Homo sapiens: one gene and its partner. The protein of the gene in region 1 purifies or fractionates together with the protein of each later gene. This does not show direct contact. Each region holds a gene or a part of one and is shown on either strand. Other genes may lie near its edges.

Region 1 (8,680 bases):
ACCACTGCACTCCAGCCTGGGCTACAGAGCAAGACTCTCAAAAAAAAAAAAAAAAAAAAAAAAGATGTGCGGAAAATTATGGACATAAAGGAAAAACTGGCAACAAAAAGAAAAATGTTGAGATTTATAAAGTGGAAGAACAGAACAACCAGATTACAAAAAATACTATGTAGTTTATTTAAATTTCACAAACAAACCAAAAAGAATGTGCATGGAAAAAAACGTATATAGCAAAATTTAAGTAGTAATCACTGGGTAGAAAATTATAAATTTTTTAAATTTTTGCTTATATATATTTTGTAAAGGTTCTACAATGAATATCTTATTACTTCTGTGTTCAGAAAAATTGACAAAAGTTATAATTTAAAAAACAAAAAACCTGAAAAAAATGGAAGAATCTACATAGATCAAAAAGAACTTAGTAAAGGCTAACCAACCTAACAGACTTTCAGGAAAGGTTCATTTTTCAACTTGGTGATCTTAAACAAATTATCTTCCCAATTTTTTTTTTCTTTTTTTTGAGATAGGGTCTCACTCTGTCATGCAGGCAGAAGTGCAATGGCGCAATCACAGCTCACTGCAGCCTCAACCTCCCAGGCTCAGGTAATTCTCCCATCTCAGCCTCCCAAGTAGCAAGGACTACAGGCTTGCTGCACCATGCCCGGCTAATTTTTGTATTTTTTTGTAGAGATGAGGGTTTGCCCAGACTGGTCTCAAACTTCTAGGCTCAAGCAACCAGGCCACCTTGGCCTCCCAAAGTGCTGGGACTATAGGTATGAGCCACCACATCTGGCCTTTTTCTTACTCTTGCTTGAAATTCTACCATTAGCGATGTATCTGGGTTTATAATTTCTTTTTTTTTTTTTTTGGAGACAGAATCTCGCTCTGTCACACACGCTGGAGTGCAGTGGTGCAATCTTGCCTCACTGCAAACTCTGCCTCCTGGGTTCAAGTAATTCTCATGCCTTAGCCTCCTGAATGGCTGGGATTACAGGAGTGTGCCACCAGACCCCGCTAACTTTTTTGTTTTAATAGACATGGAGTTTGGCCATGTTGGCCAGGCTGGTCTCGAACTCCTGGCCTCAAGTGATCTGCCCACCTCAGCCTCGCAAAGTGCTGGGATTACAGGTGTGAGCCACTGTGCCCAGCCTGAGTTAATACATTCTGACTTAAAATGTATAAGTACATTTATACATTTTAAGTCAGAATTAAAATGGGAGCCCCAAAGGACTTTTGGCTATTTACACATTAATATGAATTGGTTTAATTAGATTCCTTCTTTGACAGGCTCAAATGAGATTACTGACTTAGAAAAAAATGGGATGTCTGACTGTGGGGAGAAAAATAATTTCTTAGCATGGGACATTCAGTAGGGTGGGTGATTAGGACTATATATTAGCAACAAGAGTCTGGTGGTCTAAGAAGAACAGAATGAAAAAGAAAGCACAGAATAGAGTTAGGAGGACCACAAAGATAAACCTGCATCTCAAAACTGTGTTTAGGGTAAGCCTTGCACTGTAGAGAGTTCTTAGGTTGGGCAAGGTGGCTCATGCCTGTAATCCCAGCACTTTGGGAGGCCGAGGTAGGTGGATCACCTGATGTCAGGAGTTTAAGATCAGCCTGGTCAACATGGTGAAACCCTGTCTCTACTAAAAATACAAAAATTAGCCGGACACGGTGGCACGCACCTGTAATCCCAGCTACTCAGGAGGCTGAGGCAGGAGAATTGCTTGAGCTGAGATAAGGCCACCACACTCCAGCCTGGGCAACAGAGCAAGATTGTCTCAAGAAAAAAAAAAAAAGAGAGAGAGACAGGAAAAAAAAAGAGTTTTCTTTTTCTTCCTCCATACTAAAGGGTATGCTTACCACATTCATAGTTACTAATAATACTACATTTTGGGAGAGCCAACTTGGGAAAATTTTCCACTACTACACATACAAAGGTTAAGAGTAAAGCAATCTGCTTCATGTATGTTTTTTAAAATCTACTGTTAAGTTCCAGGGTACATGGGCAGGATGTGCAGGTTTGTTACGTAGGTAAACGTGTGCCATGATGGTTTGCTGCACAGATCAACCCAACACCTAAGTATTAGGCCCAGGATCCATTAGCTATTCTTTCTGATGTTCTCCCTCCCCACCGTCCCCTCCATATATGCTCTTAATCTATACTCTCACAAGGATTACAATGCTTATTCATTCTTAATTCAAAAATATTTATAGAGCATCTCATAAGGCCAAGCTTGGGAGAATAAAGCAGTGAACCAAGACAAAAGTATCTGTGCTAGTAGGGCTGACATTTTGCTCCTAAGTGCTTGTAGGCCTATAACAGGTTTTAGATTTTACAAGTTTTCCCTCAAGCAGTACTTACAGCATCTCCAAGCCTCATTAACAGCTGCTGTAAGATCAAAAGATCTCTGCAGATCAGGAAACGAGTACTGGCGATTTTATGCACCCCTCTGCACACAATATACCCTGCTGTGTTACTACCATAGAGCTGGGTAAGATTCATTCGAATATTCAAAGGCTGAGCTGTAAAAAGAAGAAAAATGGAGTTGAATGCATCATTGTTTTAATCAAAGAGGCACATTTGTTGTTCTGTCATTTACCTGGATTGAATCCCTTTTCCATTTCCACTTCTGTTTCATAATCCATTTCCCGTATAAGTAGTCCAATTGCATGGATTGGGTTCCTAATCTCTTGCAGTTTACTACAAATATCCTCCATCACATTTTCTCTATAAGGACAATTACAAAACTCTTATTACTACCGAGAATACGTAAGGCAAGTTCTATATGTCCTATAAGCTAAATACATTATGAAACAAGAGAACCAGATAAAGGAATGAAGATAATCACTCTGGCATATAAGATACAGTCCCTATGCATAGCAAATTTCCTCTCAGTTTTTCATAAACAACACACAAAACAAACATGAGAAGAACACTTTTGCTTTTTAGAATTTTTAGCTCGGTTAATTGTTAAAGCATATTTTATAAGTCTATTTCTAGACTTGAAGTCGTGTTAAATTTTCTGTTAAAAGTAGAAATATGTACTTAGAATCATGGCGCATCAGTTTGACTTTAAGCTACTATTCTGTACGCTCTGGAACATACATTAAAATTCCAACTTTGGCGCTAAAAATGCTGAATTTCCATTAGGAAATGCACTTTACCCTAATTCTCCTTACACATCAATAGTGATCATATCTTCCAGAATCTGCTCTGCAGCCTTTTCCGGAGACTGTAGGTTATAACAACTCATTTCCATTATAACTGACATATCCACAGTTACTGACTCTTCAATCAGCCGGAGGCATTTTATAAGACATATGACATCCCGAGCGATGTCCACATCTACAAATAAGAGAAAGTTAACATTTATGTCTTAAGCCAATGACAATCTATTGATTGATATTACATTAAAATGTTAATAATTAAATGACAAGAAATCTATCTGAGGTCTCAGAGATGCTTTGGTCTCTTAAGTGTTCATTAAAATATTTGTGGTGTGGTAAAGTGACCAAGACAGGTGTGGCAATCGATATTTTTTGTATCCATGTGAAACGAAGCATAGGGTTTATATAGGAAGGGGATTAAATATGGACATAACAATTACTATTACCATCAGATATGGTTGTCTCATCTTCTGTCAAAAGGTTCTCATAAGGCAGGAGATACAAATGATCCACTAAGGATGAGGGAATAAGGAAAGACAGGTACCCCTGGAAATACAAATTTTCCAGTTACATTTTTGTCAGTAAAATTTTAAAGGTATAAAATAATTGAGATGTGCATCTTATCATGAGGCAAACCCAAGTTGCAATACACTCTATAAAATAATAGGTGTAAGTCTTGGCTGGGCACAGTGGCTCACATCTGTGATCCCAGCAGTTTGGGAGGCTGAGGTGGGAGGATCACTTGAGCCAAGGAGTTCAAGACCAGCCTGGGCATCATGATGAAACCCCATCTCTAAAAAAAAAAAATTAGCCAAGTGTGGTGGCACACAGCTTTAATTCTAGCTGCTAGGGAGGCTGGGGTGGGAGGATCACCTGAGCCTGGGAGGTTGAAGCTGCAGTGAGCCTTAAGAGTGCCACTGGGCCGGGCGCAGTGGCTCACGCCTGTAATCCCAGCACTTTGGGAGGCTGAAGTGGGTGGATCACGAGGTCAGGGGATCGAGACCATCCTGGCTAACACGGTGAAACCCCGTCTCTACTAAAAATACAAAAAATTAGCCAGGTGTGGTGGCGGGCGCCTGTAGTCCCAGCTACTGGTGAGGCTGAGGCAGGAGAATGGCATAAACCCAGGAGGCAGAGGTTGCAGTGTGTTGAGATCGTGCCACTGCACTCCAGCCTGGGTGACAGAGCGAGACTCTGTCTCAAAAAAAAAAAAAAAAAAAAAAAAGAGTGCCACTGTACTGCAGCCTGGGTGACACAGCAAGACCCTGCCTCAAACAAACAAACAAACAAACAAACAAAAAAAAGAAACAAGCATAGTCTTCAAATAACATCATTCTCATGAAAGACAAAGAAACGCTGATAACAGTTTGAGGTTAAGCTAAAGAGACACAATAACTAAATACATATATTAGATTGGATCCTGGACTTTGGGAGGCCAAGGTGGGCGGATCACCTGAGCCCAGGAATTTGAGACCAGCCTGGTCACAACATGGCGAAACTCCGTCTCTATTAAAAATACAAAACTAGCCAGGTGTGGTGGCGCGTGCCTATAATCCCAGCTACTCTGGAGGATAGGCAGGAGAATCGCTTGAACTCAGTAGGCGGAGGTTGCAGTGAGCCGAGATTGCACCACTGGACTCTAGCCTGGGCGACAGAGCAAGACTGTCTCAAAAAAAAAAAAAAGATTGGATCCTGGATCAGGAAAAAAAATTATGGGCACAATTGGCAAAATCTGAATATAAACTATATATATATATATGTTATATTTGGCAAAATTTGAATATAAGCTGTATAATATTATGTCAATATCAAATAACCTGATTTTTAAATTGGGCTGTGGTTATTTAATATCTGTGTTCTTAGATACATGCTGAAATATTTAAGGATATTTAAGGATAAAGGAGCATGATATCTACAACTAACTTCTCAGTAGTTCAGGAAAAACTGTTTAGAGAAAGAAGAAAAGCATATGGAAGTTAACAAATGATGAATCCAGATGAAGGGTATACAGGAATTCTTTGTGCTATTCTTGTAACTCTTACCTTAAGTTGGAAATTACTTCAATATAAAAAGTAAATAGGCCGGGTGTGGTGGCCCACGCCTGTAATCCCAACACTTTGGGAGGCTGAGGCGGGTGAATCACCTAAGGACAGGAGTTCAAGACCCACCTGACCAATATGATGAAACCCCACCTCTACTAAAAATACAAAAATTAGCCGGGTGTGATGGTGTACACCTGTAGTCCCAGGTACTCAGGAGAATTGCTTGAATCCCAGAGGCGGAGGTTGCAGTGAGCTGAGATCACACCACTGCACTCCAGCCTGGGTGACAGAGCAAGACTCCAACTCAAAAAAAGAGAAAAAAAGAAAAAGAAATAAATACAATAAAATACAAAAAAAGTATAGAGAATAACACAGAAAACTATTTAAATGAATGAATCACAATTTTAGGGGAAAAAATACAAATGCAAAGTCCTAAATGCTAACCGCAACATTCACCAGACTAACATTCGGCAAGAGCCACTGAACTTTTTGTTTTCTGAAGGCATTTTGTTATAACAGCCACTGAACTGTCTCAAGAAGGTCTTCTCTATGCTTTAGCTCACTTACTTTTTTCAGCAGGCACACCATGTTTGTGTGTGGATTCAAATGTAGGGCAAGAGGGTGAGAGAGGGCTTCTTGATACTGAAGACAACAGGCATAGAACTTGCACCAGAATTCTTGTTGTAAATTTCGAAACTCCTCCTGGGAGAATTCATACTCTGTTACACTTCCTTGAAGCTGGCAAAGAAGAAATGAAAGAAATTAAACTTTTGATGCCATTCAGGATCTTTGTCCACAAAAAACATAATTGTCCAATATCATTATACTAAGCTACAGCCAAATGAATATTCCTTACGTATTAAAGGCCATAGACTATGCAAATGTGTATCTGATTCTCTAGTTAAAAGGTTTAAACATTTATATGTTCCAACAAACAAGGTCAAGTGAAGAATTCCAGTAATTCCTCGGTCAGTACCAATCTGCCCTATATCAAGATGGAAGGAATTCTTATTCTTTCTCTACCCAAGCCTCACCTCATTTTCAACAGCTAAAGTAACTTCTTTCTTCAGTTCACTCCAGGAAAGATCCAAATTCCTCTCAGTTCCTCGGCAGAAAATCTAACATTAAAAGACATTTTAGACTTCTATATAATAGCCAAAACTGAATGGAAAACGTTTCAGTTTAGAAGACATAGAGGCAATATAAAACTATATAATAGAGATTTGGCATACCTGGAACACACATCACCCAAGAGAAAGTTAAGAAACTGGGTGTATTTAGTCTGGAGAAAGGTGACCTGGAAAGATTCTTAAAATACTTGAAGGGTTGATTTATAGAAGAGAGGCTTCCTTTTCAATGACACAGTTTGGGAATAATAACTCCCACAAGAGGTAGTGACAAAGTGGTCAGTGGAGGTAGAGACAATTAAAGGCTGAATAACTATCACAAAAGCCTCAGAAGGCATTTCTGTTTTATGTGGGAGGTCAGTCTAAAATATTCTAATATAATTTTCAATTATATGAGTTATTGTATTTTAAATCCATCCATGAAGCTAAGTAGTAATTTAAAGAAGCCTATGCAAGCTGGGTGTGGTGGCTCATGCCTATAATCCCAGCACTTTGGGAGGCTGAGGCGGGTGGATCATTTGAGGCCAGGAGTTCGAGACAAGCTTGGCCAATATGGCAAAACCTTGTCTCTACTAAAAACTACAAAAATTAGCCGGGTGTGGTGGCATGCGTCTGTAGTCCCAGCTACTTGGGAGGCTGAGGCAGGAGAATCACTTGAACCCAGGAGGCAGAGGTTGCAGTGAGCCAAGATCGTGCCACCGCACTCCAGCCTGGGCAACAGAGCGAGACCCTGCCTCAAAGGGAAAAAAAAAAAAAAAGTCTATGTAACTTTTTGTTGTTGTTTTAATAGAGATGGGAATCTTGCCATGTTACCCAGGCTGGTCTTGAACTCCTGAGCTCAAGCAATCCACCCCCTTGGCCTCCCAAAGTGCTGAGATTACAGGTGTGAGCCACTGCACCCAGCCAGAAGCCTTTGTAACCTTAAAAAATCCTTTCAGTTTTTTTTTTTTTTTTTAAGATAGGGTGTCACTCTGTTTCCCAGGCTGGAATGCAGTGGCATGATCAAGGCTCACCATACCCTTTACCTCCTGGGCTAAAGCAGTCCTCCAACCTAGGGCTCCTGAGTAGCTGGGACCACAGGTGCATGCCACCACACCTGGCTATTTTTCTATTATTATTATTTTTTTTAGAGATGGGGTCTCCCTCTGTTGCCCAGGCTGCTCTCAAACTCCTGGGCTCAAGTGATCTTCCCTCTTCAGCCTCCCAAAATTTTGGGATTACAGGTGTGAGTCACTACCGTTGGCCAAAGAATCCTTTTGTAAAGCACTGGGCTTCTCTTATACAATGAATTTGAAGCCAAAAACTTTTTTTTTTTTTTTTTTTGAGACAGAGTCTCACTCTGCCGCCAGTTTGGAGTGCAGTGGCGCAATCTTGGCTCACTGCAACCTCTGCCTCCCGGGTTCAAGAGATTAATTCTTCTGCCTCAGCCTCCCGAGTAGCTGGGACTATAGGCGTGTGCCACCACGCCCGGCTAATTTTTGTATTTTTAGTAGAGACGGGGTTTCACCATGTTGGCCAGGATGGTCTCGATCTCTTGACCCCGTGATCCATCTGCCTCAGCCTCCCGAAGTGCTGGGATTACAGGCGTGAGCCACCACGCCCGGCCTAGAGTTTTCTTGAATCTGAACCAAGTCAGACCTTCACTGTCCTAATAAAAAGGTTAAAACAGTATAACCAAAACTAAACAAAAAACCACTTTAAGTTTCTCTCAAGTACAGAGATTCTATACAGTGCAGTATGGTATCTTTTTACAGTACTGTAGGTAGAGGTTTCTCTTTCTAACTCTGGCATGTGTCACTGATTACTGGGAAAGTGGTCCCCCCTCCAACCTCTCCACCATGAATACTGTATTTAATGGAAAGAACATTAAAAAAATTATAAAAGTATTTACAAACACACATATGTATGAATACAGAAGTACATTCAGTGTTTAATATATGCAAAAACTTAATAGTAATTATATACAGTAATAAAATAAGAAATAGTCTTAAACAAACAGTAAATTTTTTTTGCTGACCTGTAAAGCCTTACATAAAGCTTCATTTGTGAATTGTCCTGGTGTAAAAAGACTTTGCAGATACATCTCCTATTAGAACATTAAAACAAAAGTTACTATTGTCCTAAACAAAATTTGGAATTCAACACATAACACCAAAGTTTGAGTTTCTACTATATGAACATTGCCATTTTGCCCTTCTATATGTGGGCAATAACAGTAGTGCGGTTACATGTTTTCACACTGAAAGTGAAGACTGCAATGTCTTTGAGTCAACTAGAGGTACTATACTTAAAATGGTGTGTTCCTCACGGAGAGCTTCATTGGGTTCCGGCAGAAAA
Region 2 (8,680 bases), on another chromosome or scaffold:
GGGGAGGCATTCTTTAAAAATATGGAGTTTATGTTGGCAGTGATGAACAGTTTTGAGTACAGATAACAGTGATGGGTACACAGCACTGTGAACGTAATTAATTCTACTGAATTATACCATTTACAAATAGTTAAAATGGGCCAGGCATGGTGGCTCACGCCTGTAATCCCAGCACTTCAGGAGGCCAAGGCAGGAGAATCATTTGAGATCAGGAGTTCGTGACCAGCCTGACCAACATGGTGAAACCCTGTCTCTTCTAAAAACACAAAAAAATTAGCCAGGCATGGTGGCACATGCCTGTAGTCCCAGCTACTCAGGAGACTGAGGCAGGAAAATCGCTTGAACCCCGGAGGCGGAGAATGCAGTAAGCCGAGATCCCACCACTGCACTCCAGCCTGGGTGACAGAACAAGACTCTGTCTCAAAAAAAAAAAAAAAAAAAAAAAAAAAAAAAAAAAAAGTTAAAATGAGGAATATTATGTTATACATATTTTACCACAATAAAAAATTGCATCATGGCCCTCGTAGTGGCTCACGCCTATAATCACAGCACTTTGGGAGGCCGAGGTGAGAGGATTGCTTCAGTCCAGGAGTTCAAGACCAGCCTGGGCAACATGGTGAAACCCCATCTCTACAAAATAAAAAAATCAGCCTGTGGTGCATGCCTGTGATCCCAGCTACTTGTGGGGCTAAGGTGGGAGGATCACTTGAGCCCAGGAGGTTGAGACTGCAATGAGCTGTGACTGGCTCTAACGTAGTATCATGCCATTAGGGAGGGCAGGTGAGGGGTAATAGCAGGACACTCCCACTACACACTTCCTTTTGTTTCTTTTGAATTTTACACCATGTGCATGATTATCTATTACAAAAAACAAATCATAAAGGGGGAAAAAAAGCATGCAGATGATAATACCTTCATATGAAAATGCTGGAAAGAGTCTTAAATATAATCTAGTTCAATGTTTTCACTTTATAGATGAGGAACTTCAACAGCACACAGATTATATTATGTTCTTGCCCAAATTCAAACATCCAATAAGGCAAAGACAGCGATAAAAGCAGATGTAGATAAAGGAGAGTGTATTTTTTTTTTTTTGAGACGAAGTCTCGCTCTTGTTCCCCAGGCTGGAGTGCAATGGCACGATCTCTGCTCATCACAACCTCCGCCTCCCGGGTTCAAGCGATTCTCCTGCCTCAGCCTCCTGAGTAGCTGGGATTACAGGCATGTGCCACCATGCTCAGCTAATTTTTGTATTTTTAGTAGAGGGGGAGTTTCTCCATGTTGGTCAGGCTGGTCTCAAACTCCTGACCTCAGGTGATCTGTCCATTTTGGCCTCCTAAAGTGCTGGGATTATAGGCGTGAGCCACCGCACCCGGCCGAGGACAGTATATTTCCTAAGAAAACAAAAGTAACCACAAAACAAAAGAAACAATTTTTATAGAATTTTTTTTTTTTTTGAGACAAGTCTCGCTCCGTCGCCCAGGCTGGAGTGCAGTGGCGTGATCTCGGCTCACTGCAAGCTCCGCCTCCCGGGTTCACACCATTCTCCTGCCTCAGCCTCCAGAGTAGCTGGGACTTACAGGCACCCACCACCATGCCGGGCTAATTTTTTGTATTTTTAGTAGAGACAGGGTTTCACCATGTTAGCCATGTTATTTATTTTATTAGGTGGGTATTTTCTGTAGAAAGAATTTGCAAGTAAAATGGTGGACTTACAGAATCTTTGTTTCAAAGGTTGGTTACGCTAAACTCTGAAGCAACTCTCCAACTATCAGCACTGGAAGTAGTCAAGTTTATCTGGCTAGATTTTTCTTTTATTAGTAAAATGTCAGAAGAACTGGACTTCAGAAGCATTACAATCCTAAATATAGAATGTCTTCTAAAGGTTAAAACATTCTGGAATTTAACTTTTTATTTACATGTTATGTTGATCAGTTTTCTTCTCTCATAGAAGTAAAACTATATTCTGTTTCCTGATGTAAAACCAGTGTTTATGAAATATGAATAAGTATTTAGGAAAAAAGAAGCCCTGGGATAATGAGTATCTGTTCTTTTCTTTTTTTTTTTTTGATTCCCCAGACACACAGTGGATCTGTATGGCGTGTGACATGGGCCCATCCTGAATTTGGCCCATTAAATTTATTTAAATTTAAATAAAATTTAAAGAATTTTATTAACCCTTGGCCAGGCGTGGTGGCTCACGCCTGTAATCCCAGCACTTTGGGAGGCCGACAGGCAGATCACGAGGTCAGGAGATCGAGACCATCCTGGCTAGCACAGTGAAACCCCGTCTCTACTAAAAATGCAAAAAATTAGATGGGCGTGGTGGCGGGCGCCTGTAGTCCCAGCTACTCAGGAGGCTGAGGTAGGAGAATGGCGTGAACCCGGGAGGCGGAGCTTGCAGTGAGCCAAGATTGTGCCACTGCACTCCAGCCTGGGTGACACAGTGAGACTCCGTCTAAAAAAAAAAAAAAGAATTTTATTAACCCTTAAGAGTTTAAAGTTAAAAAAAAAAAAGAATTTTAGAGTTAGGCACAGTGGCTCATGCCTATAATCTCAGCAACTCAGGAGGCTGAGGTGGGGCCAGGAGTTTGAGACTGCAGTGAGCCAGAATACTTTAAAATCATATATTACTATCATAAAATATACTAATAGGTAAAATCAAATACAATGCAAATATTCTGGATTCATCATAAAAGTTATAAACAATGCAGTGATGCTCCTAAGTATTGCTTCAGACCCAAGTTAAAATGAAATAAAAAAGGAAGAAAAAAACATGGAAGAAAGAACTTTAGAACTGGTAAAACTAGAGGGGAGTGGTGATATTTTACCAATTATCTGAGGTAGCCTTCGGATGAATGCTCCTTGGCTGCTCATGTCTTCCCGGTCCCCAGAATACTAATAAATGTCTCACCCAGTGGCTCTGTCCTCGCAGTTTATCATTTGATTCTCCTACTATTTCTTCCCATACAGCAGCTGTTCGGTCAAAAGAACAGGAAGCCAAAACCTGCCCAAATTCAGGATGGGCCCATGTCACACGCCATACAGATCCACTATGTGTCTGGGGAATCAAAAAAAAAAAAGAAAAGAACAGATACTCATTATCCCAGGGCTTCTTTTTTCCTAAATACTTATTCATATTTCATAAACACTGGTTTTACATCAGGAAACAGAATATAGTTTTACTTCTATGAGAGAAGAAAACTGATCAACATAACATGTAAATAAAAAGTTAAATTCCAGAATGTTTTAACCTTTAGAAGACATTCTATATTTAGGATTGTAATGCTTCTGAAGTCCAGTTCTTCTGACATTTTACTAATAAAAGAAAAATCTAGCCAGATAAACTTGACTACTTCCAGTGCTGATAGTTGGAGAGTTGCTTCAGAGTTTAGCGTAACCAACCTTTGAAACAAAGATTCTGTAAGTCCACCATTTTACTTGCAAATTCTTTCTACAGAAAATACCCACCTAATAAAATAAATAACATTAGATTTATTTGCTCCAAAATCCATACAGACAGAAAGTAGATTAGTGGTTACCAGCGGCTGGGAGCAGAGTAAACAAGAAGTGACTGCTAAATGAGCACAGGGTTTCCTTTAGAGGTGGTAAACAATGTTCTGAAATTAGAAGTGGTGGTGGTTGCCAATTAAATGAATATACTTAAAATCACTAAATTGTACACTTTAAATGGGTGCACATTATGATATGTAAATTATAGCTCAATCAAAAAAATACTTTTTTTTCATTTGATTCAACCAGGCATAGTGGCTCACGCCTGTCTTCTCAGCCCTTTAGGGGGCTGAGGTGGGCAGACTGCTTGAGCCCAGGGGTTCAAGACCAGTCTGGGCAATATGGCAAAATGCCATCACTACAAAAAATACAAAAAATTAGTCAGGTGTGGTGGTATGCACTTACGGTCCCAGCTGCTTGGGAGGCTGAGGTGGGAGGATCACTTCAGCCTGGAAGGTTGAGGCTGCAGTAAGCCAAGATTGTGCCACTGCACTCCAGCCTGGGTGACAGAGCAAGAACTTGTCTCCAAAAAAAAATTATTTGCTTCAAAAGTCTAACAATATATAGAGATTATAGCCATAGAATGCTTAAATGATTTTAACTGACAATACAGTCTATCGATAACAGACTATTGTAGGAAGAGCAAATATGGGGAAGCCCAAATCCTTACACCCCTCCTGTTGGCCAAGGGGTGGGAGGGGAGGTGGCTGGAGAAGGGATACAAAGGTCTTAAAGAATTTCACCATCAAAAGAATTTGCTAGGTGCTTCTCAGGGAAAATACTGTATAATAACAAATAACATTCAGAAAATGTGTTTCACACTGTATAGCTAACATTTTTTACATTCAACAACATAAAAATAGTTTAACCAATAACTTCTACATGGTAACAATGTCACCAACTAAAGGTACATTTTGCACCCTTTTTTTTTAACCTTGTTTTGTCCAGTCTTTTCTGTATCATCTTTAATTCTTACTTATACAGGGCTATAAAATTAAAAATGCACACTAAGGCAGATAAGTTTTATTAGATTTACAGTAAAATGCAATCTAAAGAATAAGGTTTGCACAAAGATGCTCATCACAATAAAATGGAAACTGAAATATCCACTAGTTAAGCAAAATGGTATATTTATTGGCTGTTAATAAAAAGCCTTTAAAGATATAGAAAAGTACATATGAAATATATTAGGCTTAAAAGCAAGAGATGGGGTTTCCTTTTGGAATAATAAAAATGTTTTAGAACTAGAAAAAGGTGGTAGTTACACAACACTGTAAATGAAGTAAATGCCAATTAATTGTTTACTCTGAAATTATTAATTTTATAAGTTAACCTCACCTTAAAAGGGGGGGGGACCTTGGATAGACCTTTCACAAAAGAAGATACATGAATGGTAAATAAGCATATGAAAAAATAATCAACATGAGGTATTAAGGAAATACAAATCAAAATCCAATGATTTTTGTGGTCACTTCTCAACTACTAAAATGGCTATAATAAAAAAGACAGATATTATCGAGTGTAGGTGAGGATGTAGAGAAACTGGAACCTCACACATGGCTGGTGGGCACAGCCACTTTGGAAGAGTTTCGCAGTTTCTTAGAAAGCTAAGTGCATATAGCCCATCAATTCCACTCCTACGCATCTATCCAAAAGAAATGAAAATATATGTCTACACAGACTTACATGGCACGTTCTTAACATTACTCATAACAGCCAAAAACAACAACTCAAATGTCCGTCAACTGGTGAACAGACAAACAAAACGTGGCAATATACATACAACGGACTACTCAGTATCAAAGGAACAAATTGACACATGACACAATATGGATGAACCTCAAAACATGCAAAGGGAAAGTGGCCAGACACAAAGGACTATGTATTTCAAAATTCCATTTCTATGAAATTTCTAGAAAGGATAAACCAGGCCAGGCATGGTGGCTCAAGCCTGTAATCCCAGCACTTTGGAAGGCCAAGGCGGGCGGATCACTTGAGGTCAGGAGTTCGAGACCAGCCTGGTCAACATAGTGAAACCCTGTCTCTACCAAAACTACAAAAATTAGCCGGGTGTGGTGGCATGCGCCTGTAATCCCAGCTACTCAGGAGGCTGAGGCAGGAGAATCGCTTGAACCCAGGAGGCAGAGGTTGCAACGAGCCAACATCGCACCACTGCACTCCAGCCTGGGCGACAGAGCAAGACGCCAGCTCAAAAAAAAAAAAAAAGAAAAGAAGAGAAGAGAGGGTGGGAGGGGAGGGGAGAGGGAGGGCAGAGGAGAGAAGAAACCTATGGAGACAGAAAATGGATCAGTGGTTGCCTGGGGCTTGGAGTGGGAATAGGATACAAAGGAATTTCTGAGTTTGAGAGAAAAGTTCTAAAACTGGATTACAGTGATGACTACACAACTATGTAAGTTTACTAAAACTCACTGAACTGTACATTTAAAATGGATGACTTTTAAGGTATGAAAATTTCTACTTGGCCGGGCACAGTGGCTCATGCCTATAAACCCAGCACTTTGGGAGGCCGAGGGAGGATCACCTGAGGTCAGGAGTTTGAGACCAGCCTGGCCAACATGGCGAAACCCCATCTCTGCTAAAAACACAAAAATTAGCCGGGCATCGTGGTGCACGCCTACAGTCCCAGCTACTTGGGAGGCTGAGGCAGAAGAATCACTTGAACCCAACAGGCGGAGGTTGCAGTGAGCCAAGATCACGCCACTGCACTCCCACCTGGGCAAGAGAGCAAGACTCTCCGTCTCAAAAAAAAAAAAAAAAGAAAATTTCTACTTGAGTAAAGGTTTTGTTTTTTTTTTTTAAGAGAAAACTATGTATGAAACATCACAACAATTAAAATATGTAAAGGCAAAAGGAATATTCTGAATTACTAAGATAATTATGTTAGAATGCTACAGAATTACAGATTTTCTTACTCTCAAATTCTGAGAAACACAGTTGTTACTTTAATAGCGAAAAACAGTAAAATGTCTTCCCAGGAAAAGAACTACTGTATAAATGTTATTTTCTCAAAACAATTCATAGATAACTATAAAATAAACAGTAAATATTTCTGTATTTTTAATAAATGTAAAAATAAATACTAACCTTCCAGCTAGCAGTACAATGCCAATCACCACTTTCACTTTTATCCCAGACCTATAAGAAAATAAAAGGCAGATATTTTATACAAAAATTCCTACAAATTGATACAAAAACTATAAGACTGAATCAGTGTACAAGGAAAGCGGTGAACATATAGTTAACAAAAGAACACAATCAGCAAGTAAACATTCATTCATTCAATTAAGTATTTATTGAGAGGCTGGGTGCGATGGCTCATGCCTGTAATCCCAGCACTTTGGGAGGCCAAGGCAAACGGATCACCTGAGGTCAGGAGTTCGAGACCAGCCTAGACAACGTGGTGAAACCCCGTCTCTACTAAAAATACAAAAATTAGCCAGGCATGGTGCCGCATGCCTATAGTCCCAGCTACTAGGGAGGCTGAGGCAAGACAATCGTTTGAACCCCAGAGGCGGAGGTCGCAGTGAGCTGACATCACGCCACTGCACTCCAGCCTGGGAGACAAAGCAAGACTCCGTCTCAAAAAATTTACATTGAGAACCTTGAATGTGTCAAGCACTGGGCCAAGCACCAAGGGATTCAGGAAGCTGAGCTCTATTAGGTAACAGAGACAATTAGTTACAGTCACTACGCTTGGAGGCCATTTTAAACAGCAAAATCACCAACAGAAAGAACAAATAATCATTGCACTAAATAAATCATGAAAAACACCTGCTTACAGTATGAGCCAAAATAGAGTATCGCCTGGTTTCACCTCAATGGGAAACGTCTGTCCTGAGACTCAAACTTTTTCACCACTCCTCACACATGCACAAATGACTGCAAAACCAGTGTGACTTTTGGGGTACAAGTAAATTTCAGAGTAGACAAATTCAAAAAATACAGAATCTACAAACAACAGGCTCAACTGTACATGTAACAAATGGTAAAGCAAAAATATTGAAACCAGGCATGGTGGTGCACACCTGTAGTCCCAGCTACTCAAGAGGCTGAGGCAGGAGGGATTACTTGAGCCCAGGAGTTTAAGGCTATGATCACGCCCGTGAATAGCCACTGCACTCCAGCCTGGGCAACATGGCAAGACTCCATCTCAAAACAAAAAAATTAAACCTTATTACCCAGAAAAAATATAGATTACAATAAGAAGGTGCCAATTTCACCTGTTAAAAATGTAACGAGGGCAATAACACTATCAAATCAATACTATCACTGGCGGTATAAAACGGTACGACCTGCAAAATAGCAATTTGTCAATTCTCTTCAATAGTGTTTAAAATATCCACTAATTTATCTTCTAGAATTAGCCTAAGAAAATCATTCAAAATACATAAAATGCTAAACTAATGAAAAATTTCAGTACAACACTATTTCTGACAAGACATATACGTATATACACACACTCTACCATGACAACTTAAAACGTTAAAGGAAAAACAGAGGAAATCAATAAATATTAACACATTAGCAATAAGTCTATAATTTTTTCACTTTCTAAAAAGAAAAATATATTACTTGCTCAATTAAAAATATATACAAATAAATACATGGCTCCTCCTTTAAAAAAAAAGTACTCTGGAATAAATGGACCTAAGAGGGCTGGGCAAGGTGACTCACACCTGTAATCCCAGCACTCTGGGAGGCTGAGGTGAGAGGATCACTTGAGCTCAGGAGTTCGAGACTAGCCTGGGCAACGCAGCAAGACCCTGCCTCTACAAAAAAAATGTTTTAATTGGCCAGGCGTGGTGGCGTGCACTCGTAGTCCCAGCTACTGGAGAGGCTAAGGTGGGAGGATGGCTTGAACCTGGGATGTTGAGGCTGCAACAAGCCAAGATCGCACCACTGCACTCCAGCCTGGGTGACAGAGCCAGACTCTGCCTCAAAAAAAAAGGAAAAAGAAAAAAGAAAAAAAAAATTATACTAAGTGAAATAAACCAAATATAAAAGGGCGAATATTCTATGATTCTATTTATCTGAGGTACCTAGAATATGCAAATTAATAGAAAGCAGTAGAATAGAGGTTACCAGAGGATGGGGTGGCGGAACAGGGTGCTCTTGGGTACAGAGTTTCAGTTTAGGATGATGAAAA

The links.
Region 2: the proteins of NUP160 (region 1) and SEH1L fractionate together in Homo sapiens (co-fractionation; 3 studies listed by BioGRID and IntAct, with this or other methods). This does not show direct contact.

The regions. Positions count from the first base shown.
Region 1 is NC_000011.10:47,809,696-47,818,375, forward strand, and holds part of NUP160 (nuclear pore complex protein Nup160), read right to left. Parts: intron 8,430-8,680; coding exon 8,361-8,429; intron 6,335-8,360; coding exon 6,251-6,334; intron 5,955-6,250; coding exon 5,784-5,954; intron 3,721-5,783; coding exon 3,621-3,720; intron 3,353-3,620; coding exon 3,187-3,352; exon of another isoform or gene 3,172-3,186; intron 2,735-3,171; coding exon 2,607-2,734; intron 2,530-2,606; coding exon 2,369-2,529; intron 1-2,368. UniProt on the Homo sapiens protein: Functions as a component of the nuclear pore complex (NPC). Involved in poly(A)+ RNA transport.
Region 2 is NC_000018.10:12,949,844-12,958,523, reverse strand, and holds part of SEH1L (nucleoporin SEH1), read right to left. Parts: intron 6,670-8,680; coding exon 6,619-6,669; intron 3,062-6,618; coding exon 2,915-3,061; intron 1-2,914. UniProt on the Homo sapiens protein: Component of the Nup107-160 subcomplex of the nuclear pore complex (NPC). The Nup107-160 subcomplex is required for the assembly of a functional NPC.